Linked DNA regions of Homo sapiens. The protein of the gene in region 2 interacts with the protein of the main gene of each other region in a pairwise test. Each region holds a gene or a part of one and is shown on either strand. Other genes may lie near its edges. The genes, in order: ZXDC and CBR4.

Region 1 (11,943 bases), on a different chromosome or scaffold from region 2:
TACAGCATCTCCTGGGTGTGGGGATGGGGGCCGGATTCCTCTCATGACCACAGCACAGCAGCCAGGAAGGGGGAATCAGCTCAAATGGAGGTCAGGTCAGGTGATGATGGGGAGACAGGTGGGACCCAGAGAATGAGGGGAGGCTTGGAGCAAAGGCGGGAGTTCAGACAGCTTGGGTGACTGAAAGCCCCTGGGCTGGGCCCGGAGCGTGAGCATGAGGACAGAGAGGGTGCTGGCAGGAGACTCACCCCATCTCACCGGGAGCTGCAGGGCTTCTGGCGGAGCTGGGGATGGAGGTCTTCATCCCAGAGCAAGAGGTTTTGTTCTAGGAGATGCCCCGGCTGTGGCATGGAAAAGTGGGTTGGGGGCAGGTGTGGTGACTGTGTGGAAGGCGGAGGCGGGGGTGGCAAGAATGGCAGAGGGGAATGGGGGAGGAGGCGTGGCATCATCCAGGGGAGACCAGGTGGAGGGAAGAAAGAGGACTGCAGGGACATTGTGAAGGTAGAGCTCAGGCTGAGGTGGATTCTAGAAGGGAGGGAGGTGCTGCGGAGGACTCAGGAGGCAAGGCCATTCTTGGAGCTGGGGGAGCAGGACTGAGTGTGATGACCGCCAGTTTCAGATCCCAGAGGAGGGCCAGAGACAGGGAGCCTAAGCTGGGGGTGGAAATGGGGCAGACACAAAAGGGCAGCTGTCCCCACGGACAGCCTCAGAGGTCCCGAAGCAGAGAGGCCCCAAGTGTGGGAGCCAAGACTCACGTGGGGAGCCCGGTTATGTTGACATGGACTGCTATCCCCCTCCTTGCCCTAGGTGGCCCGGCGCTGCTGGTCAGGGAACCAGAAGGCCTATGAGATCATCTGCCAGACCATGCAGGAGAACAGCACCTTGGTGGTGACACTGCCTCACAAGGTGGAGGACGAGCGGGTGCTCCAGCAGGCCCTGCAGCTCTGAGGGAGCCAGGAGTCGCGGCCCCTGCCTCCCTTCCTCCCTGGCGATCCTCACCTGCCCAGCCATGGCACACACCCTTCCTGCACACCCGCACTACCTGCACTTCTCGCACATCCTCACGTGGCCCTTATGGTGCCCTGTGCAGGGTGCCACCACAGCCTCATTTTACAGACAGCCCCCTGAGGCCCAGAGACATGCAGCTCTCTGTCCACAACCATGCCACTTGCATGGGAGCCCTGAAGGCTGTCAAAGTCCATTTAGGGCCAAGTCCCAAGCCTGCCCGGGGGCCCTGCGGTGAACACTGGTCAAGCTCTCTCCGGCTGGGATGATCACACCCTCTGCTTCCTGGCCACCTGCCAGCCTCCATGCAACTCTGTCTGTCTGCTGCCCATCTGCTGTCTGTGCAAGCAACTTCTGGACCCTGGCACCCTGGGCTGCTGGCCTGGAGGAGTTCGGGAAGGAGGATAGACCAGGAAATAAAGGGTCAACAGAGCTGTGTGCTGCACTGTGGGCTGGTGGGACGGGCAGGCCGGGTCTGCCCTAAGGATAAATGATCACTTACTGGGGAAGAAATGAGAGAGCAGGGGCACCCCCCTAGGCCAGCACAGCCTGAGGGGTACAGCAAAGGGGACCCTTTGCTGGCCCCTGAGGCTGGAGTCTGGCACCCCTTCCCCAATCCCATAGCCCGGTAATGACTGGGTCCAGAGCCTCGTGAGAGGTCACCGGGATGGGGGAAGTGGCCTCTGTCAGGGCCAGGGCTCATGAATCTCATTCTCTTAGCTGGGCGTGCAACAGACCAACAGATAACTCATCCTAAACAGAGAAATGAGAAAGAGTCTGTGGGTGGGCCTCTGAGGGCCACAGAAAACCAGACACCCCACATGTCGGTGGATTGGAGAGGGGCAGGCCACTGCCCTCTCCAGGACCAAGCCGGGTTCTTGGTCCCCACCCTCCCTGCACTCCGCATCTCCTCCCCAGCAGCCATTCTCCCCTTTCCCTTGTGAACAAAAGCCTAGTTTTGTGTGGGCAGCAATATAGGGTAAATAAAACCACCTGATTCTCCAGCCTTCCTTGCTGTTAGGAGGGACTGTTGGCCTAGTCCTGGCCCACGAGATGAGGGTGGGGTCTGTGGGGCAGGGCTTCTTGAGAGCCGTCGTTTTTCTAATAAAATGGACAGATCCAGCGGGGTTGCTTTTTGCCTTCGCCCCTTCGTCCTGCCAGAACCAAGATGTGGGGCCTGGAAACACAGCAACCAGGTTGGTCAGCTAGGGCGGCTGCCACATAATGTCTGGCACTGGGGCCCAAACAACAGAAATGAAACACATTTGCAGGCTGGAAGCCCAAGACCAGGTGCCAGCTGGCGTAATTCCTGGTGAGGCCAACTTCTCACTGCATCCTTCCATGGCAGAGACAGAGAGGGGAGAGTGTTACAGAGAGGGGCAGAGACAGAAAGACAGAGACAGAGAGGGGAGAGTGTTACAGAGAGGGGCAGAGACAGAAGGACAGAGACAGAGAGGGGAGAGTGTTACAGAGAGGGGCAGAGACAGACAGAGAGTCACAGAGAGAGACAGAGAGAGAGGAAGAGACAGAGAAAGAAAGAGATACAGAGAGGAAGAGACAGAGAAAGAGAGAGATAGAGAGAGTAAGAGACAGAGAAAGAGAGAAAGACAGAGATAGTGAGAGAGACAGGACAGAGTGTGTAGGGACGAATCGTCTGTCCCCACATCTCCATGAAAGCACCCTGCTGCATGGATCTGTGCACACATCTTAAGAGCGGGCCACAGGGCCCTGGCATCACCCTTTCCCCATCCAGCACCTTCCCTCTTGAAGGACAGGGAGGGCTCTGGTGGCTTCCAGCTGCACACAGACCCCAGACCCCCTCTGGGCTCCATACCAAGCCATGCCAGGGAGCAAGCTACTTCCCTGGCCCCTGCATGCCAACCTGCTGTCTGCTGCTGCAGTGGTAAGTGACAGCTGACTCCCACGGGGCTCACAGCGGAATTGGGGCAGCTGGTCACAGCTGTAGTCGCCATGGAAGGAACAGCGTGGCTTCTGATGTGCCCAGTGCCATCTTCTTTTTCAGAAGGCAAGGATGTATAGTCCAGTTAGAAATGTTTTCATCAAAATGATTAAAAGAGAAACCAGTTGGCCATGATGAGTGTAGGGTTCAGTTGCCTTAAGAGTTGGAGGTGAGAAAGGCTCAGGCCCTGCAGTACAGCATTAGGGTCCTCCCCCTGGGCAGCGCCTGCTCTCTGCAAACCCAGGGTCCCTGGGAACTGTATGCTTTCCTTGCTGGCAAGCCAAGGTCAGGGAGGGAGGGCCTGGCTGAGTGATGCACTCTCCCATTCCAGTTTTCCCAGAGTAGACAACCACACAGGGGCCTGTGGGCCGGGCATGACCTGCAGTTATGTTTTATTTATATATTTTTTAGAAATAGGATCTTGCTCTGTCACTCAGGCTGGAGTGCAGTGGTGCAATCATGGCTCACTGTAGCCTTGAACTCCTGGGCTGAAGTGATCCTCCTGCCTTAGCCTCCCAAGTAGCTGGGACCACAGGAGCACAGCACTACACTCAGCCTGCAGTTGTGTTTTGTTTGGTCTGTCCTGTTTTTAAAAAAATTTGACTTTGTCACCAATGTTTACAAATTGGGAGAAATCCAGAGCTTATTTTTTGAAAATCAAGATATAAGGTAACACCATGTTCTCACCACCTCTGTGGCAGTGATTTGCTGGGGGCCCCTCTGGGCTGGCCTAGCTCTCTGCACTTGGCCACAGTCCCTTCCAGTCCCTACAGAACCCATGGTGAGGCGGAGCGTGTATGCTGTTTGTCCCTTGGCATGAGAGTCTATGTTTCCTGTGCCCACCTGTCTCCCACATTTGTGTGACTTGTATGACCTCTGCTGGGATTTGAACTTGTGACCTTTGACAAAGAGATGCTCTTTTGCTCCCAGTGAACCTCATCCCCACTCCCATCAAAATTTGGGAATCCTGGACACTTCTCTGTTAGCAATCTCAAGATCCACATGATGCCTTTTAGCCCAAAAGAGGTGCTGGACATCCAGCGATACCTGGGCTGATGGGATTTCTCCCCAGACACAAATAAATCTGAGCGTGCATGCGTGTGTCATCTGCGTCCCTTCCCCTGGCTTCTCCAAAATCCTTTCCACACAGCCTGGAGAGTACAGGTCTGGCTGGCCAAGGCACAATCTCTGTGGTCCTTGTAATTTGGGGCACTCCTTTGAGACTACCAAGTTCAAGTCTCTGCCTGAGCCCCACTGGATGACCACATTGAGCTGACTCAAGCCCACCTGGTGAAGTGGCGCGTCTGACCCTCGCCAGGAGTCCTGTTGCTCCTTTCAGGGTATCTCAGCAGAAGGCTGAAACAACCTAGTATCTGAAACAACCTAGTATCAGATTTGAGCTTTGGTTGGGTGGGGGAGTCTTAGGAAGCGGGGATTTGCTCTGGATTGGCTCTTACCAGAAATCGGGTCAACACCATGACTAGGTTTCTGACTAAATCCTATATACAGAGAGGGAAGCACACAGACAGACAGGCTGTCAGGGGTACAAAAGCGGCGGCTGCTCACGTTAGCTGAGAGAGGGGCTGCTGGGTATCTTGTAAATGGCACAGCAAGTGACCTCGCTTTATCTGGGTGGAGACACATCATGAAGTGGCCTTGCTTTGTCTCATGTCATTGTGTTTCAGTGACCTTGGCCTAGGTTGGTTTTCTGCGTGATGGTTCAAGTCTTACAGAACAGAGTGGCCCAGCTGTAGCACCCGGCCAGTTTCTGGATGGCAGGGGCTGCCCTTTTTCTTTCTCAGTCCCCTTCATTTTACACATGAGGAAACTGAGGCACAGAGAAGTTGTGATAGTTTAAAAATGGCTGCAAATTCTTTCCAGCACCTCCCATTGAGAGGTGGAGTACAAGTTCCCCTTGCCTGGGTCTGCAGTGTCTTATGACTTCTTTGATCACGAGAATGTGGCATAATCAATGCTGCGCAACAAGTTGGGCATGGTGGCATATGCCTGTAGTCCAGTTAATTGGGAGGCTGACCCGGAAGGACTGCTTGAGGCCAGTTGGAGGTCGCACTATGATTGCACCTGTGAATAGCCACCACACTCCAGCCTCAGCAACACAGGGATGGACTTGCTGGGTCATGTGGAGATTATGTTTAGCTTTCTGCAGAACTGCCAAACTGTTTTCCACACCGCAACGTTATACATTCCCACCAGCCATATGTGAGAGTTCCAATTTTTCTATATCCTGTTTTTAAAAAAATTACCACTATTTGAGTAGGTGTGAAGTTGTATCTCACTGTGTTTTGATTTGCATTTCCCTAATGATTCGTGATGTTGAGCCTCTTTTTATTTGCTTATTGGCTGTTTGTATTATCTTCTTTGGAGAAATATGTCTATTCAAACCTTTGCCTTTTAAAAAAGTGGACTGTTTGTCTTCTTGCTAAGAGTTCTTTATATATTCCAGATAGTAGATCCTTATCAGATATTCGATTTGCACACCCTTCTCCCATTCTGAGTTGTCTTTTCACTGTCTTATTGGTGTCCTTTTACCTGAGTAAGTTTTTAATTTTGATGAAGTCCAAGTTATCTATTTTTCTTTCTTGTGCTTTCAATATTATATCTAAGAAACTATTCCCTAATCCAGGGTCACATAGATTTACACCTACTTTTCTTCAAATAGTTTTATGTCTTACGTGTAGGCTTTTGCTCTAATTTGAGTTAATTTTTGCCTCTGATGAGAGATACACGTCCAAATTGGTTCTTTTGCATGTGGAGATCCAGTTGTCCCAGTGCCGCCATTATTGAAATGACTATTCTTTCCTCTACTGAATGGTCTAGGAACAATATGTTTTCGGCATAAACTGATATATATAATAGATGTATCCTATTCTTTTTAATATTATAATTTGTGTTACTTAAAAAAATACTCTTAATAATAAAGCATTCATGTATTTAACAAATATGCACCAAGAGTCTTCCTGGGCACACACAGTGAATAGGACACAGTTCCTGGGCTCCAGGAGCCTACATTCCAGAGAGGGAGAGACAGTGAAGGAGCAGGGAAGGAACTCAACAAAACAACGGGTGATGAGAGCTCTAAGAGCAAACAGATCAGACAGAGGTGGGAATACGGGACTGGGTAAGCATGTGCTTTGGATCAGAAGGGGCGCAGAGTCCTCCCAGAGGAATCAGAGATCAGCTGCGCCAAGTCTCTGAGGCTGGAACCAGCTTGGCTTGCTGGATGAACTGGGAAAAAGAGGTGGGGTGCGGGGGAGGGGTGGGGGGGGCAGCGGGAGAGTGGCGGGAAGTGAGGGCAAACAGGTAGGGGAGGGTAGACTAGCAAGGCCATAGGCGCCTTCGGGAGCAAGGTGGAGGTGAGCATAATTTGATGTGCAATTTTTAGATCATAAAACGGTGCCCCGTGGATGGGAGCGAGTGGAGCGGAGGGAGACCGATGACCAGCTAGTAGTTATTTTTCAGGTACCCAGGAATAAAGTGCGGGTTTGGATCTGAGTGGTGGTGAAGTTGAAGTGGAGGAGTCCAGATTGAATGCGGAGGTGTACGGTGAGGTGGGGGAGGGTGAGGACCGGAAACAGTAAGTAATTAAGCTGTTGCAGAGTGAGGTTGTGCCAAGTTTAGTAGGAAATACAGTTGGAAATACAGGCAGGGGTCCTGCGTATCAGGGAGGCCCCGTGTGCCGAGCAAGGACCTGGGCCAAAGCAAACGAGGTCTGTGCGCCAGCGGCGGCAGGCGAGCTTGCACTTAAGTGAGCTGGGGGTAGGCGTCCGGCCTGTTGGACAGGTTCGAATCCTGGATCTGCCGGCTGCCGAGTGACTCGAGCTCGCCGTCCCTGTTTCCTCACCCCTGGGTGACCGCGCACGCTTAATCAGCTCGGACAGGTACAGCCCCTGGGACGCAGTCAATGCCTACGAGAGGTTGCCTGTTAAGTGTCTGAAATATTAATACGATTCGAAGTCAAGACAAGCCTCGTCTTCCACGCCAGCGGGAACGAGAAGGAATCGCTCAGCGTTGGGAGCCTCACCCCGTCCCCTGTCGGTCCCGTGCCCCGCCGCTCGCCCTCGTAGGTGCCGGCGCTCCGCCCCCCGACCCCGCGCCCCGCCCCCCGACCCCGCGCCCCGCCCCCCGACCCCGCGCCCCGCCCCCCGACCCCGCGCCCCGCCCCCCGACCCCGCGCCCCGCCCCCCGACCCCGCGCCCCGCCCTAGTCGGTCCCGGCGCCCCGCCCCCGCCTCCGCCTCCGGCGCCCCGCAGCCCAGCCTCACGTCACGTCAGCCCAGCAGGCCTCGCGCATCGCCCGGCGGCGTCCGCGCACGCGCGGTTCCGAGCCGGACTCTACGCCGGGGCTTGGCGCGGATCGCGTCCCGGGGCGGCGCACGCACACCTGGGCGGGGCGCGGGCAGCTCTGCGTCCGAAGCTGCTCCGACGCCGTCGCTGGGACCAAGATGGACCTCCCGGCGCTGCTCCCCGCCCCGACTGCGCGCGGAGGGCAACATGGCGGCGGCCCCGGCCCGCTCCGCCGAGCCCCAGCGCCGCTCGGCGCGAGCCCCGCGCGCCGCCGCCTGCTACTGGTGCGGGGCCCTGAAGATGGCGGGCCCGGGGCGCGGCCCGGGGAGGCCTCCGGGCCAAGCCCGCCGCCCGCCGAGGACGACAGCGACGGCGACTCTTTCTTGGTGCTGCTGGAAGTGCCGCACGGCGGCGCTGCCGCCGAGGCTGCCGGATCACAGGAGGCCGAGCCTGGCTCCCGTGTCAACCTGGCGAGCCGCCCCGAGCAGGGCCCCAGCGGCCCGGCCGCCCCCCCCGGCCCTGGCGTAGCCCCGGCGGGCGCCGTCACCATCAGCAGCCAGGACCTGCTGGTGCGTCTCGACCGCGGCGTCCTCGCGCTGTCTGCGCCGCCCGGCCCCGCAACCGCGGGCGCCGCCGCTCCCCGCCGCGCGCCCCAGGCCTCCGGCCCCAGCACGCCCGGCTACCGCTGCCCCGAGCCGCAGTGCGCGCTGGCCTTCGCCAAGAAGCACCAGCTCAAGGTGCACCTGCTCACGCACGGCGGCGGTCAGGGCCGGCGGCCCTTCAAGTGCCCACTGGAGGGCTGTGGTTGGGCCTTCACAACGTCCTACAAGCTCAAGCGGCACCTGCAGTCGCACGACAAGCTGCGGCCCTTCGGCTGTCCAGTGGGCGGCTGTGGCAAGAAGTTCACTACGGTCTATAACCTCAAGGCGCACATGAAGGGCCACGAGCAGGAGAGCCTGTTCAAGTGCGAGGTGTGCGCCGAGCGCTTCCCCACGCACGCCAAGCTCAGCTCCCACCAGCGCAGCCACTTCGAGCCCGAGCGCCCTTACAAGTGTGACTTTCCCGGTAACCGCGCTCTCGGGGGCGGGCGGGCTGCGCGGTGTTGCAGGCAGGTCTGGGGTGCCACGTCCGCCCCACAGAGGGGCCTGCCAGACCTTAGCAAGCCGGGGACGCAGGCTCTTCGGGATTTGTATTCTAGCTCCTTCCATGTCATTCGATTTGAGATCTTGGCCCTGCCCTGCCGCAGGGATTCCGATGGCAGGTAGCGCAGATCACCACAGCTGCGCTTCCCAAAGGTGGCGGCAACAGATATCCTTAACCTGCTTGTGCTTGATGAAAGCGGCACGCATCTTCACAGAGTGGCACGGAGCTATGTGTCAGGTCTTTATTTTCCTCAGTCTCGTCATTTGTTTACGGGGTGCACACTCCGTGCTAGAGGAGCAGAGATGAATGTGGCCAGATTCAGGACCTTAACACGCTGGGAGGATAGCCACAGGTGTGCGCACATCCTGGCTTTTTTTGCCTTTTGCACTTTGATTTCCGTTGAACCTCACAGTTTTGTGAAGTTTTAAAAATTAGCCGTCTGTGAAGGTTAAAAACTGTCCTCTTTTACAGATGAAGAGACAGAGGCCGAGCCTTGTGGATAAAGTCCACTGCTGGTGGCTGGGCGCGGTGGCTCACGCCTGTAATCCCAGCACTTTGGGAGGCCGAGGCGGGCGGATTACGAGGTCAGGAGATCGAGACCATCCTGGCTAACACGGTGAAACCCCGTCTCTATTAAAACTACAAAAAATTAGCCGGGCGTGGTAGCGGGCGCCTGTAGTCCCAGCTACTCGGGAGGCTGAGGCAGGAGAATGGTGTGAACCCCAGAGACGGAGCTTGCAGTGAGCCGAGATCGCGCCACTGCATTCCAGCCGGGGCGACAGAGCGAGACACCGTCTCAAAAAAAAAAAAAAAAAAAAGTCCACTGCCTGTTCTTTCTCCTGTGTGTTGACCTGCAGTTGTTGGGAATGTAGGACTCCAACACAGTGAGCTCTTCACCAGGATGGGCAGCTTTCCCTGCTTTCACAGGGATAGGGTTCCTCCAGAAGGGCAAGAAAGGATTCCTCCCTGGAAAGGCAGAAGAATGGAGTCGGCTGGGTGGCAGAGCCCAGGTGGGGATTGTGGTCTGTGGTGAGGGCCCAGGAGGAAGGACCAGTCATTCAAACAGAAACTGGAATGTGTGCCTAGCATGCCCCTAACCTGTATATGCACACGGCTCTCCTTATAATGTCCTTAAACAAGAATTTTTAAAGGATGAGATGAGAATTATGAACGGGTTTTATTATTTTTTCCCTCGCATATGCCTGTGGACTGTCTTGCGCATTCCTCTTCAGAGAGAATGTGGCTTGAGGCCACTAGCTCAAAGTCTTTTTCAGTCATACACTCTTGGGAATCTGATGGTGGCTGTAGACCCTTTCCCTGCTAAAAGAGTATCATTCTGTGTATGACACTGGGAAGGTCAGGGATCCCGCCTGCTTCCAGGCATGAGGTCTCTTGAGGGTTTTGTGTTGGCTGATCCATGAGGCTTCTTGTGTTGAGATGAGATTAGATGGTTAGATGAGATTAGATGTTTAGAAGCAGGAGCAGGACCAGGGAAGCATCATCAAAGGGCCCAGACCTGAGTTTTCTGAAGGCCTGAGCCAGGGAGTGGGAATGATGAGGGTCTCTAGCAGGTGAGATTGCAGAGGGAGAACCAAAGGGTGTAATTATCTATGGGGGTGTGGGGGGTTCTTGCCAAGGCAGAGAGAGTCTGTGTTCAGATTTACATGACCAAGTGTGTGAACACACCGAAGCCCAAAATACCCTGGAGGTATTTTGGGACCAGATTGAGGCCAAAGATCAGCATTTCTGAGTTAGATGTTGCTGGGGAAAGTAGGGTTCCTTGGGCTGATACTTTTGGGCAGTGCTATGCCATGTACATCTGTGTGGCAGTTCATAGGCATGATAGTATCTCGTTAAAGGCTCCAAGAGGAGCTGCAGCAAAGACTCCTGTTAAACATCCTGCAGCCTCATGTTTTCCACCCTGTTGGAGCCCTGAATGTTTCTGTCGGAGGAGAAGTATTGCTGTGGAATTGTTGAGGCTTAGCTGCTTTGGCCAGGGGTTAGGATTGAGGTGAAGATTACAAAGCAGGGAACCTAAGGAAATTGCGAAAGGAAAAAGAATCCAAACAGCAAGGGACAGGGCTGGCAGTTGGAGGGTGTCAGGGAGGAAATTTGGATATGTAGAGGATGCAGCATCACCCCCAAGGGGTGAAAAATCCTGGCTAGTAGGATGATTTGTAGCCTTTCAAAGATCAACCCTACCAGACAAAATCTTGTTCCTTAGTATTTGATTTCTCTCATGGGGTTCTTGGGTCTCAGTGTGTGTGCAGGATCAGTGCTCCGGAGCCGGCCAGTAGATGGCTGTGAACGGAGGACTTTCTCTTTATCGGTTGCTCCATCTCCAAGTCATGTTGCAACAGGTGGCCAGCGTGTGCCTATTGGCTGCCATTAGCTGCCTTCCTGTGGTGATCACAAAGCCAAGCATTAATGGTCTTCCCTTTTTAGAGAGTGCTTCTGAGTCATGTTTTCCCTTGTCTGCTTCAGTGTGAACAGGGTCTGGTGGGTGTGACTAGCATTAGCTATGTTGTATAATTTTTGCCACGCTTTGAGCAGGGTTTGTGTTTTCCTTGTTCAGGCTGTGAGAAGACATTTATCACAGTGAGTGCCCTGTTTTCCCATAACCGAGCCCACTTCAGGGAACAAGAGCTCTTTTCCTGCTCCTTTCCTGGGTGCAGCAAGCAGTATGATAAAGCCTGTCGGCTGAAAATTCACCTGCGGAGCCATACAGGTAATGAGCTAGGGAACGCACAGCATTTGGACCCAAGATTTGTCTTCATCGTAGCTGTTGGAGTTGTAAATTTTATGCTGTATAATTTTTTCTTTTATAAGGTGAAAGACCATTTATTTGTGACTCTGACAGCTGTGGCTGGACCTTCACCAGCATGTCCAAACTTCTAAGGCACAGAAGGTAATCCTTACATTTTGGTTTGCATTATCAGGTTTGAAAATGAGTGGTTTGTCAGCAGCAGAAACCAATGAATGAAATATCTGTAGACATTTTTTAAGTTGTTAAAAAAGGAGCTCAGTGTTGATGATTTGGAAAATTCAGAAAACTGTAAAAAGAAAATTGCTCAGAATCTCATCACCTGAAGTCAGTTTTTTCTGTGTATACTTTTTTTAAAAAAAGCTAAATTGGCATACTCTGTTCTTAAAAAAAAAACAATTCCAGGTTTTTTTTTTAACTTAACATTGTAGAATAAGCTTTCTTCATGTAATTACAAGTTTTCATGGTGGTAATGACAACCCTGGAGACTGTGTCCAGGTGACACTCAGCACTTTACATGTGTGTCTTCTACCTTCCCAACAACCTCAAAGCTAATGTTCTTATTCTCCCTGTTTTACAGTGAGACTCGGAGAGATTCAGTGGTTTTTCTGTACTTGCACAGCTGGGCTCTGAGGATTTAATATAAAAATGTCACTTAGGAAAAGACACAGTCTTTACAAGTTGGCTTAAGAGAGTCCTTTTGGCATTGCAGCTGATGCTCTGTGCACATTTCTCACGACCGTCTGTCGCTCGGAAAGCTTGTTGAT
Region 2 (11,646 bases):
AGTGTCTGGCAGTTTAAAGTAGTCCTTCCTGTAGTAAGATTCTCAATTTACTATCTATTATTTACTTTTAGCTCAATTCTAAAAGTTTTGCATGCATAAGGAGGACTAATGGGTTTTTTAAATACACCTAAAAAAAAGAAGATTTTAGAGTTAAACAAATATACCTCAGGTTATCAGGTGACAGATACAGGCCTGTTTGCCTGCTTGTAAGTATCCAAAGTCCTTATCTGGCTGTGTTAAAAGGCAAAGGTTGACTCATTGACTAATCTCTTACATAAGAAAACGGATCCCTTAAATTTTTAAGAGTAAATGTCCAAAATGCTCTCATGTCCCCTTAGTTTATTAGCATAGTATTCTTTCCTTTTCTCACTTTCAAAACAGAAAAACTCTAAATTCTGGCTTGAAAAACCATTTCCTACATTTAAAAGAACAGGGTCACTTACTTTTATGGAGCAGCATCTCCCTTCTGTGGCCTTTTAAGGTATTACCATTTGAAAATAAAAAGCAGATGGTATACTATTATTTCCAAATTACCAAACTGAAATAAAATTTCAAGTCATTTTGCATTTTAAGTTCTACAGGCATATACTCCACAGCTTATCTGCCCTGTGGGTTAGATGAACTGAAAACTAGGGGTTACTTACATCCATTCTTAAAAACAGAGAAATTTTATCTTCCTTTAAACCTCTACACAAGATTTAACAGTAACCCATGAAACTGCTGTAGACAATATTATTTAGCCACCACTGTCTACTTTAATTCCTTGTCCATGTTTTAAAAATCAGGTTCCTGGCTGGGCACGTGGCTCACCTCTATAATCCCAGCACTTCGGGAGGATCACTTGAGCCCATGAGTTAAAGACCAGCCTAGGCCACATAGTGTGACCTCGTCTCTATTTAAAAAAAAAAAAATTCACATAAAAATCAGAATGATCCAATTTCTCTTGAAAAATCAAAATTGCTGGCAAAACTGGGACCACATTCTTGCACGGCAACAATCTACTGAATCTAAGTGGTGGCCTCCACCATTCCATATGGGCTCTGGACAATGAAGCTGGATATCATTTATCACATGGCTGGTACTGTCATTTTTCTAGTACTCAGTGGTGTCACTCATTTAACACCTGCCTGACTCCTATAGGGATGTGAATGTGTGATTCTTATTTTACTCATTAATCAATTAATTAAATCCTTTTTTCCACAGATAATATAAATTTCATTCATGTTTCACAATAAATCACAAATTCGTGGATTAAATATTTTTATGGTATGGTATTATGGGATAATCATAAATTCACAAAGGTGAAGACTCACCTACATTAACAATAGACCCTCCCTGTTGTTGAATCATAGTCCTCATGGCAGCTTTACAGGTCAGCATGGAACCCAAGAGGTTAGTATGAAGCTGAGATACCATATCTTCAGTTTTTGTTCTTACTAAAAGACCATCCCTACAAAAAGAAACAGCATATAATAGCATATAATAACAAGATAAAAACCAAAAAGGTCAAGACTAATGTAACATTTTTACTGAGAGTGCAAGAAGTGCTTCCTATCTGAGCTAGAATAGCTAGAATACCTAGAGTCCCATTTTGAACTTGGCTTGAGAAACATTAAAATAACAATTGATAAACCAGAAAGGATCCACTTGGAAGACAGGTTGCTACCCCTTCTCAGCTTGAGTGGCAAATATTCTTAACCCCTAAAAAGTAGTAACATATAGCCAAAATAGTTTGAATGGCCTGAGCAACTGCCATACTAAGCCTTGTTTAGCAAGAAAATTAATATGTTATCTAAATATTCTCTCCTAAATTCATCTTTTAAAAAATAATATCCACTCCATGATTCTATTAGTATTAAGTTCACAAACTGGCAAAACTTATCTGTGGTGACAAAACTCAGAAAACAGTTACCAACAAGGAAGTATTGAGAAGACACTACCTTCTGGAGCACTGGAAACATTCTACGGCTCAATATGGGTGATGATTACAATGTTAAAATCGACTCAACTGGACATTTATTATATGTTGTATCTCAATATAAAGGAAAATAATTTATGGATTGACAAGTTTTAAAATAGTTTTTTCTCCCAGTTAGAAGCAAAATAAACATATTAACTTATACCAATCAAAGACATATTAGGAATAAAAGTTTTAAATATATATATAAGAAACTTATTTAAATCTGTGACCAACCTGTTAATACCAGCTGCATTTACCAAGAAATTTACTCGACCTAAATGTTTCTCCAGCTCTTCAAATGTATTTTGAACATCATGTTCTTTAGCAACATCACAGCTAAATGCCAAATGATCTCCTACACAACAAAGTTAAATAAGAATTACTTATAACTCAAATTTTAAATTTACTCAATACACATTTGTTAAGCATCTATCTAAGATGGCAGGCCTGTGCTAATCTAGAACCTAAAGATTAAAAAAGTAATGTCATGAGGCCTGGCTTTCATAGAGTTGGTCTAATGAAACTGGGATGCGGGAACAAAGAGGAAATAAAGTACTACTACAGAAAGTTAATTTTAAAATTTTCTTTTTAATCAACAAAGGGGGGAGGGCTTTTTCAAGTTATAAAGGCTCTGTAAGATTCATCTAATATTTATAGCTTTAACACTGAATTCATGCTACCCAATTCGACAGTCTTCTGGGTTTTATATTCCTTTTTTGAAATTTATGTCTAATTCTGTCAGGTTTTTGTTGAATTAGTTTCTTTGGCCCTGAACGGGAACTCTTGGGTTTCTTCTTTTTAAGTGCTACGGATGCACTATGGCACATATATTATAACGACTATTATTCAAACCTGACCATCAGGAGAGATGAGACAACACAGGAAGCTATAAAAATGCTAAAACTACAAACCACGGGGGGAAAAAAACACTTTTTACTAAAAGCAACTGTTACTTACCACTTTTAAAAAATGGTTAAATGCCAAAAAAAAACTACACTTCAAAGGAAAACAAAGCATTCCCTATGTAATCTACCATTTTAATACTCTAAAATGTAGGATTGTTTTTAAAAGCTAAAACAATTCTTTATTTTCTGTCTGACCTTGATAAATATGCTTACACCAACACTACCCCATCAAGCCTTTGGAAACAGTAAGCGACCCGGGGAATTATACTTTCTAGATGAAAACCAATCACTCATGGAACACGATTCAAAGGAATGCAGGGCCCAAAAGCATCCTGTGTCTCTCTTACTCTTGGTTTTCACCCGAAGACTTGTGTCCACAACCACCTTTGAAAGCCCAACTAATGGCTTCAATCCAGTCCAGCAAACACTGATGGCTTGGGGTGACACAGTAAGGGTCACCACTCTTCCCCTCCTTTGTTAGAATGGTAAGGAATATGAGCTTCAAGAAGCATTCACTGACACTCTCCCTGACCTATAACTTACAGAATCTTTTTTCTTTTAGAGAGCCCAATAGTCTCCCAACCAGCACTGAACAGGTGATACCAAACCGATCAATAATGTTAACTTAAAAATGAACAGCCACACCTGGCGTCTATAGTCCCAGGTCCTTGGGAGACTGAGGCGAGAAGATCTCTAGAGCCAGTAAATCAGGAGTTGGGGTCCAGCACGGGCAACATAATGGGAAGCCCTCTCAAAAAAAAAAAAAAAAAACCAGATACACAAAAACAGTAAGAGCCACAAGACGCACCCCTAGGCCTCTATTCTCCCCATGCCTCCCTGATAGTAAATGAAGTATAATTTTGTCCATTCTGGTGATTAAACAAATAGCATCTTCGGATCTAACGTCCTATTTCTCCCTAAACTCAATGAAGAGTTATATTCACAAAATGACTAATCCATTCATAATAAGCCGGAAATAAAAAACCCTGAAGTTTAAATGCAATAAAAAAGAATTTGGCAGAACAAAGTTCAATTGTCCATTTGCAAAACTCACCAAAACAATTTAATAACATTAAAGCAAACCAGGTATATCTCAAAACTGGCTGGTACTCAAAAGGGTTTCTCTATCAAACACTGCTTTGTGCATTCGCGCAGGGCCAAGGCACGGCCCTTGGGCAAAACTGAAGGGAGCCGTTGGTACCTGCACTCCCACCTTTCCTGCCTGAACTCCTTTCGACCCAGCCCTGTCTCCGGGGGCCGAGAACTCGCCCTTTTCCCTACATTAAAAGTAAACTGTTACGTGGCTCTCTCCCACAACAGGGAAGCTCCTCAGCGTTAGCACTAGCCGCAGGGCGGAGGGTGCGTATAGCGGGGCCTCAAAAGACTACGAGGTCTCAAAGAACACCCCAAGTGTTCAGCCCTCGGCGGCAAGCTGCGTGGCCGGCATTCTGCGAGGCATAGGGAGATCGCGGGTTTCTGCACGAGACGCATTCTACCCTTGGAACGGGAGAGCGCCTGCACGCGGCTACATCGAGTAACCCTAGAGCCCTAAAGGCCAGACCCGCTCTTTTTACAAAGGAGATTTTCTTTAGGCGCCTGGACCGCGGCCATACAACTGGACAACTCCAGTTTGGTACCTACCGCCGAGGTCACCGGCGGCGGCTTTGGCCCCTTCCAGGTTTCTGGCAATGACCGCCAGTCGGTAGCCTTTCCGGGCCATTAACTGGGCCACAGCTCTGCCAATGCCTCGGGAGCCTCCAAAAACAGCACACACTTTGTCCATCTCGGAGTCACAAACTCGGAGGAAAGAGGGTAGGGAGTGGGAGCCCCTCTCCAGGTTCCCTCAGGCTTTTAAACAACCGCGGTTCCAAAAAAAAAAAAAAGAAAAAAAAAGGCAAACCGCAAAAAAAAATAACGCCGCTCGACACCTCCTGCAGCCGCACAATAGTAATGCAAGACGCCGTGAAAAGGAGGAAGAGCTCGACGTCGCCGCGTCGACGTCATCACGCACGGACTCTTCCGCGCCACACCTAACAAATACGCCGACGAGAGCTCCCCGCCGGCGGAAGAATGGCCTGGAGAGGGCCTCGATGCTTGCTGGGACCTGTAGTCTTGACGCATGAGAGCAACTGGCGCAGGCGCGCTGCTCGGTGGGGAATGTACTTGTGGCACTGAGGGGGATCCTCTGTCCCCGCTGGGTCATATCAGTCGGGATTCGAGCCCCGGTGACCAATCGACCCGGTTTGTTCGGAACTGACAGGGTTGTCAAGACGCTGGGCTTTCCCTGGCAAACCAAGACGACCTGATCACGTAGTTAGAACCCAGAGAAAGCATTACTGGGCGTGAGCCGGTCGGGGCTCCGGTATTTGCCCTTCGCCCAGGTGTTGTTTTGGCTACAGACTTGATGTCCTACCTGTTGAAGAAGTCCCCAAGAATCGCACCCACACCAAAACCTACCCTACCTGTTCCTCCCCCAGGTTGCTGTAGAAATGGACCTCTACCCGCCCAGATGTTACCATTCATCGCGAAGGGTGTCGTGAAGATGAATGCCCTGTCGAACATCATCCAGCAGGAGGTCAAGGAATTTTAACTGAATGATTGAATAGTCTTGCAAGATCTATGAAACAAGCTTCGGCTGCTGTAGAGAAACAAAAATGGGTTCCTGCAATTCTAAATAAGATGTACTGGGTGCTCTGAGAGTTAATAAGCTAAAAAATTCAATGTTTGTTACAATTATAGTGTAAACAGAAAGCATTTCTGATACAATATTATTTTACTAGATTCAGAAAAGTATGAGCCATGGTCCCTACCACTAAAAAAACTACAACCCAGAACTACAGGACTAATACACATGAAACACTAGGAGGTATCCAAAATCATACTTAGTAAAATGCAAAATTATATTAACACAAGAGCTCCGAGAAAATGGAGATCAGTGAAGAATGAAGGGGTGCATGGAAAAGCTGGATTTGAGGGCTGGATGAGGTTTGAAAAAAGGAAAACAAGAGCAAAAAGTCTATAAATAAGCAAGTTGAGCATTAATTTAAATTTGTTATTCCTATTCCATTTAGATCCAAAAAAAGATTTGAAATGGTTTGCAAAAATACATGAGTATTTGAATTTAAAAGGCAAAGAGGACCACTGCCCCTTCTCCCACAAGGCCAGAACAATAAATTAGGTCAGTGGAAAAAATACGAATAAAGTCATGCTATAAGAATCTATTTAGTATTAAAGAAGAGATTCATAAACTTAGAGTTTCCTGCCAGCGAAAGCAACAAAGGAAATATAATTACAAGTGGTAATTTCTGTAAGAAATCAGCCTCCTGGTTATGCAGCAGAGAAGCCTGAGCAAAACTCCCTCCTCATAGGTCCTCCTAAATGGCACACTAAGCATTGTAGTAGACAGTGAGCTTCATGAAAAGAAAAAGAGATTGTAAGGCTGTTTTCATAGCATCTATTAGACTTTATTAAAAGCAAATACAATAGGAAGTTAAACAATATAAGCAAACAGTCACACATAAAAATTGTGTCTTTGAAACAATATATGTTTGAAACAATGAGGAAACAAGCCTGAGGAAATTTGGGATGGTGCTATATTATAGTCAGCTTTAAAGTCAGGTGCCAAGCATTAAACAGGCCTTTAACTGCAGAAGTAATAAGATAAGAGCTGCATTTAAGAACTATTAGCAGGCCAGGCGTGGTGGCTCATGCCTGTAATCCCAGCACTTTGGGAGGCTGAGACAGGAGGATTGCTTGAGTCTAGAAGTTCAAAACCAACCCAGGAAACACAGCAAGACCCCCACCCCCCCGACCCCCATCTCTACAGAAAATACAAAAAAAAATTAGCTGGACATGGTGGCCTACCTGTGGTCCCAGCTACTCGGGAGGCTGAGTTGGGAGGATCATGTAAGTCCAGGAGGTCAAGGCTGCAGTGAGCCATGATTGCACCACTGCAGTCCAGCCTGCATGACACAGCAGGACCCTGTCTCAAAATAACAGTGTTCTAAAAAACAAACAAACAGTTTCCCAGTGATGTAAAAATGGGTCAGATCAAATTTGTCTATTCACTTTCCTACTATACACTATGCAATCTTGGAAAGAAAAAACTGTTTTACATAAATTACCAATATAAGGGTCAGCCTAAATGCCAACTGTATTCCTGCACCTTAGGTCAAACCAGAGAGGTTTATCTTTTGAACAGTTCTCTCCATTTGCTAGGAAAATGATTATTTTTTTTTCTACACATTGTTATTTTAGCAAAAAAAAATGGTTTTTAGATCTATGCCATCTATCATGAAGATCACTAACACATGATATGAGGTGACATTCAGAATTCTGAAAACCTTCCAACTTTTCTCACTGTATATATACTGTAAATGGATAAGCTGGGCTTTTTATTCAACACATACCTCAGGTTAAACCTCAAGGTTATTATTTATTTTTTTTCCCTCTTAATACAATATCACCACTATCCCGGGTGAGAATACATCTATCACAGCACATCACCCATTAGCTGAGAAGGTTACAGCAGGGGAAGTTTCTCTGTAAGCCCCTGATAGTGAAGTGAGGATCTGTAAATTAAACTGGGTCTCCCCTACCCAGCAGGACATTGAAGGAAGCCATTAGAATGACCCACCTTTAGTCTTTCCTTCTCACTAAACATGCCACTTTTGTGGTAATATTTTAACCATATGTTATACTTTAACTTAAATCCACATAGGATATATTTTCTCTTGGCTCCCACAATCGAAGGAGAAAATTCCTTATGTATAAGGACTGTTATACAAATTTTTAAATATGCATACCTAGTATTACTTTTCTGATTACAAAAGGAATACCATTTAATTGCTAACAGTTAGAAAACATAAACTTTTTAAAGTAAATAAAAACTCATTGAAAGCATTGTACACTTTAAGCGTGTGAATTGTATCGTATGCAAATTATATCCCAATGGAACTGTTATTGAAAAAGATGTAATTTAAAGCCTACTGCCCTGTTATACGAAATTTGAATCTGCAACTAATTATAAGGGGGTTGTACCTTTCATGAATATTTTTTTCATACGTCAAGATTTATAATGCCCAAGATTCCAAATATGCAGGAAAATTTATTTATAAGAAATTTATGAATTATGATTGAATATTCATTGAGAATCCTCTTTACAAATGCACCATACTAAGCACATCCAGCTTATCAGATCCATAATTGAAGCATAACCCTTCCTGCCAGCAAGCAGTCTCCCAGGATTCTTCAGGCAGTGATGATAATCTGCACGACCCAAATTGCATGTGGCCAGCTAACTTCTCCATACAGACCATGCTCTTCTTTCAAGAAGAAAGATTAGAAAGCTGCCTTAGTGTGGCTGCACAGATATAACTTTTATGATTAAAAAGCATGTTGATTTCCTCATTGGCATTCTTGTATCCAATCTGCTGGGTAATCTAAATTGTAAGGAATGTACTTTTTATCACTTACAAAAGTTTATTTCATTTTGATTGGGAACAAAAAATGTGGCCCATGAGCTTGTTATTTTGTTGAATTGGCGTTTATGCCTCTGAGGCTGCCCACCGAGACCTAAACCTGGCACTCAGTTGCCTAAGGCAGAAGCATGGAGTTTATTCCTTCCCTCTCTCAACATCCCACATCCAATCAGTCACAAAGTCCTGCTGATTCTACTCCCTAAATACCATTCCAACTTCTACACATCCATGCTTCTCCAAACACTGTCTTCTCAACCTCGAATGCTCCCACTGCTTTCCCTGGTAACATCTGATTTATCATTCAAAATGTGGCTCAAACATCTCTTGCAATGGAAGCTTCTCCTGACCCAAAGGAGGACATGCTGATGTCCTTCTTTACCCGTCCTCTTACCTTGTATGTGTCTTCAAGTCTGTATTTCATGGAGTTACTGTGACGTCAGAATCCACATAATTTTAGGAAGATAGTGAATAGATTCTCAAGGATCTGTGAACCTACCAAGCTGAATACAAAATCTCATGTGCTTTTTAGATGAGTAGCTTCTTGAAAGAGGGTCCACTTCCTTCACTGGGTTCTCAAGGGGAACTTTCACCTAAAATGGTTAAGTGCCAGGTGTAGTGGCTCACGCCTGTAATCCCAGCATTTTGGGAGATGGAGGCGGCAGGATCACTTGAGCCCAGGCATTTGAGACCAGCCTGGGCAACATGGTGAGACCTCATCTTTTTTAAAAAAACATAAAAAATAAAATAAAATGGTTAAAAACTTTCTGTTTTTAATTGCCAACTCTTTGAATCCAGAAATGATCACATTGGTTTTTGTTTCCCTGTTTGTAGCACAGTTCCTAGGGCTTGTGAATGCTAAATAAATGAGTTAACAAATGAATCAATGAGTGAATGAAATAACTCACTTAAAAGGAATTTATTGCTATAAGCAAGAACCAGTGTCGATACAGCTATGATTAAGATAGACCTGGTGCCTGTTTTCGTTGGGAAAATAATCTGGCAAGGAAGACAGACATTAAACAATTAATCATGCCATCACTATTTAATTCCAATGGTGGGAAGAACTATAAAGGAGAAGTACAGGCTGCTAGGAGGGATCATAACTAGGGGCATTGATCCAATATGGAGGCCTGGGGTCAGAGAAGGCTTCTTCTTTCAGGACATAATGTTCTATAAAGTAAATGAATAATAACAAAGAAAGATTGCAAAGAATGATAACTACAGCTACTATCCATTCATTATGTTACAAAGCCAACTAGGTGATAACATAATTTATACATGAAGAATAAAATTCTGAATTAAAAATTCACCCTTAATAATGAAAGAGATTGTTAGTCAAAGTAGAGTTAGTATTACGCCTAGATGAGATCACAGGTTGGACATTTCACCAGGAAGTACCATGGGAGAGCATAATGCCTGAAATTTTATGAAACTCTTTTTTTTTTCCCAGCCAAAAATTTTATAATGGTATAAAGCCAGCTCTGGATACTTAAAATCAGGCCCCAAATGCAGCACGCCTGCCAAGCCACATAGAAGAGGAGAACTCAGTGTTCCTGAAATTAGTTTTAAGACTGGCCTCAATCCTCTGACCCCAGCCTCTCACTATTCCATTTCCATCTCTTTGTTTCAGGGCCTTCCCCCCTCTATCCTTCTGGCTGCATAGTCTCACGTGGCTCTCAACTCACCTGCTGCATTTCCCAGACTTAAGTGAGCCTTTCCCATCCAGGCCCTGCGGCTACTCAGACTCCTAGATCTGTATCAGAGGCACGGGCCTGGCAGCCTTCACTGCACTTGGGCTCTGAAAGACGTTCTCACTCTTGCAAGTCACCTGGGAAAGCCAGAATCGATACTGTATGGTTTAACATTTGAAACTGACTTGCAGGTAATGGCTTCTGCATTTCCAGAAGGCACCCGTGTGCCTGTAGGGATCTCATTTTAAGGATCACTGCTTTTTGTTTCTCATCTACAGGCTACAGAGACCCATCTCTCAGTTTGGATTTTGATTAAACAGTTATGCAGAGTAGAAAACTTGGGCCATACACAAAACTTAATTAAAATAAGCCTCCACTTGGGATTAATGTATGTTATTGACTGAATCGTGTCCCTCCCCGCTCCCCCCTCTCCTGCCATATTCATATGTTCAAGTCCTAACCTCCAATGTGGCTGTATTTGGAGATAGTGCCCTTAGGGAGATAATTAAGATTAAATGAGGTTCTAAGGGTAGGGCTCTAATCCAATAGGACACCAGAGAGCTTGTGCTGGGAATCTCTCTCTCTCTCTCTCTCTCTCTCTCTCTCTCTCTCTCTCTCTCTCTGTCTCTCTCTCTCTCTGTTGCCTCCCTGTACAAGGCCATGTGAGGACACAGTGAGAAGGCAGCTATCTGCAAGCCCGGAAGAGAAGCCTCACCAGAAACCAACACGATTGCACCTTGATCTCAGACTTTCAGGCTCCAGAACTGTGAGAAAATTAATTTCTGGTGTCGAAACCACCCAGTCTGTGGTATTTTTTTATGGCAGTCCCAGCAGATACAATGTGACTGTTTACTTTCTTCTCTACTACAGGCAAGCTGCAAAGTGCTGCTAAGTAATATCACACAGCCACTGCTGATTGTGTGAGTTGAGTTGGGGAGAGGTTGTTACTATGAGACCTATTCCAGAGCAGAAACAGGAAGATTGTGAATCTCATCCTCGTCACTTGCCCATGGCCTGCAGCATCCAGACCCCTCGAGGTCCTCTCCTATCTTCTTGCCAAAGCTTACTTTCAGGGAGGACTTGGAAATTCATTCCCTCTAGGTGGTAAATAATGTAACAGCATAAAGTGTTATGTCACCTAGGGACATGTAAATTGAGCCGAGAGCCAAGTGTTAAGCTAAAGGGATGACAATCTAACAGGGAAATATCATCTAGCATCTACCTGTCCAACAATATGAATCTACTGCGAGCTCAGGAACATCCCCAGTATCAGATGTAAAGCTCTGGGGATAAGAGGGCAAAGAAGGCAATTACCTGAATTGTGGAGCTCACATGTGTTGAGAGAAACAGACAAATAAGCAGATTACGATACAGTGTGATAAAGGCTGTAAATGTGAATGAAGTGCTATAGGAACATAGAGCTTCAGGCTCAGGCCAAATAGGCAGGGGGGCATGTGTGTGTGTAGACATCTATATATGTATACATATATACACATGTGTATATTTTATTATAGGTATACATTATAGGTATGTATGCATTATTATATGTATGTGTATACATGTGTTTGTGAGAGTGTGTAGGTGGGTGGGTGGGTGTGTAAAAGTAAGCC

What was found.
Region 1: the proteins of CBR4 (region 2) and ZXDC interact in binary tests that used the Homo sapiens proteins (3 or more experiments, as listed by UniProt).

What each region holds. Positions count from the first base shown.
Region 1 is NC_000003.12:126,471,350-126,483,292, reverse strand, and holds the start of ZXDC (zinc finger protein ZXDC), read left to right. Parts: upstream 1-7,401; 5' UTR 7,402-7,427; coding exon 7,428-8,334; intron 8,335-10,987; coding exon 10,988-11,140; intron 11,141-11,241; coding exon 11,242-11,320; intron 11,321-11,943. Other genes in the region: UROC1 (urocanate hydratase), read left to right, coding at 808-948. UniProt on the Homo sapiens protein: Cooperates with CIITA to promote transcription of MHC class I and MHC class II genes.
Region 2 is NC_000004.12:169,005,442-169,017,087, forward strand, and holds the start of CBR4 (3-oxoacyl-[acyl-carrier-protein] reductase), read right to left. Parts: upstream 4,815-11,646; 5' UTR 4,649-4,814; coding exon 4,507-4,648; intron 2,316-4,506; coding exon 2,195-2,315; intron 1,451-2,194; coding exon 1,314-1,450; intron 474-1,313; coding exon of another isoform or gene 444-473; intron 1-443. UniProt on the Homo sapiens protein: Component of the heterotetramer complex KAR (3-ketoacyl-[acyl carrier protein] reductase or 3-ketoacyl-[ACP] reductase) that forms part of the mitochondrial fatty acid synthase (mtFAS).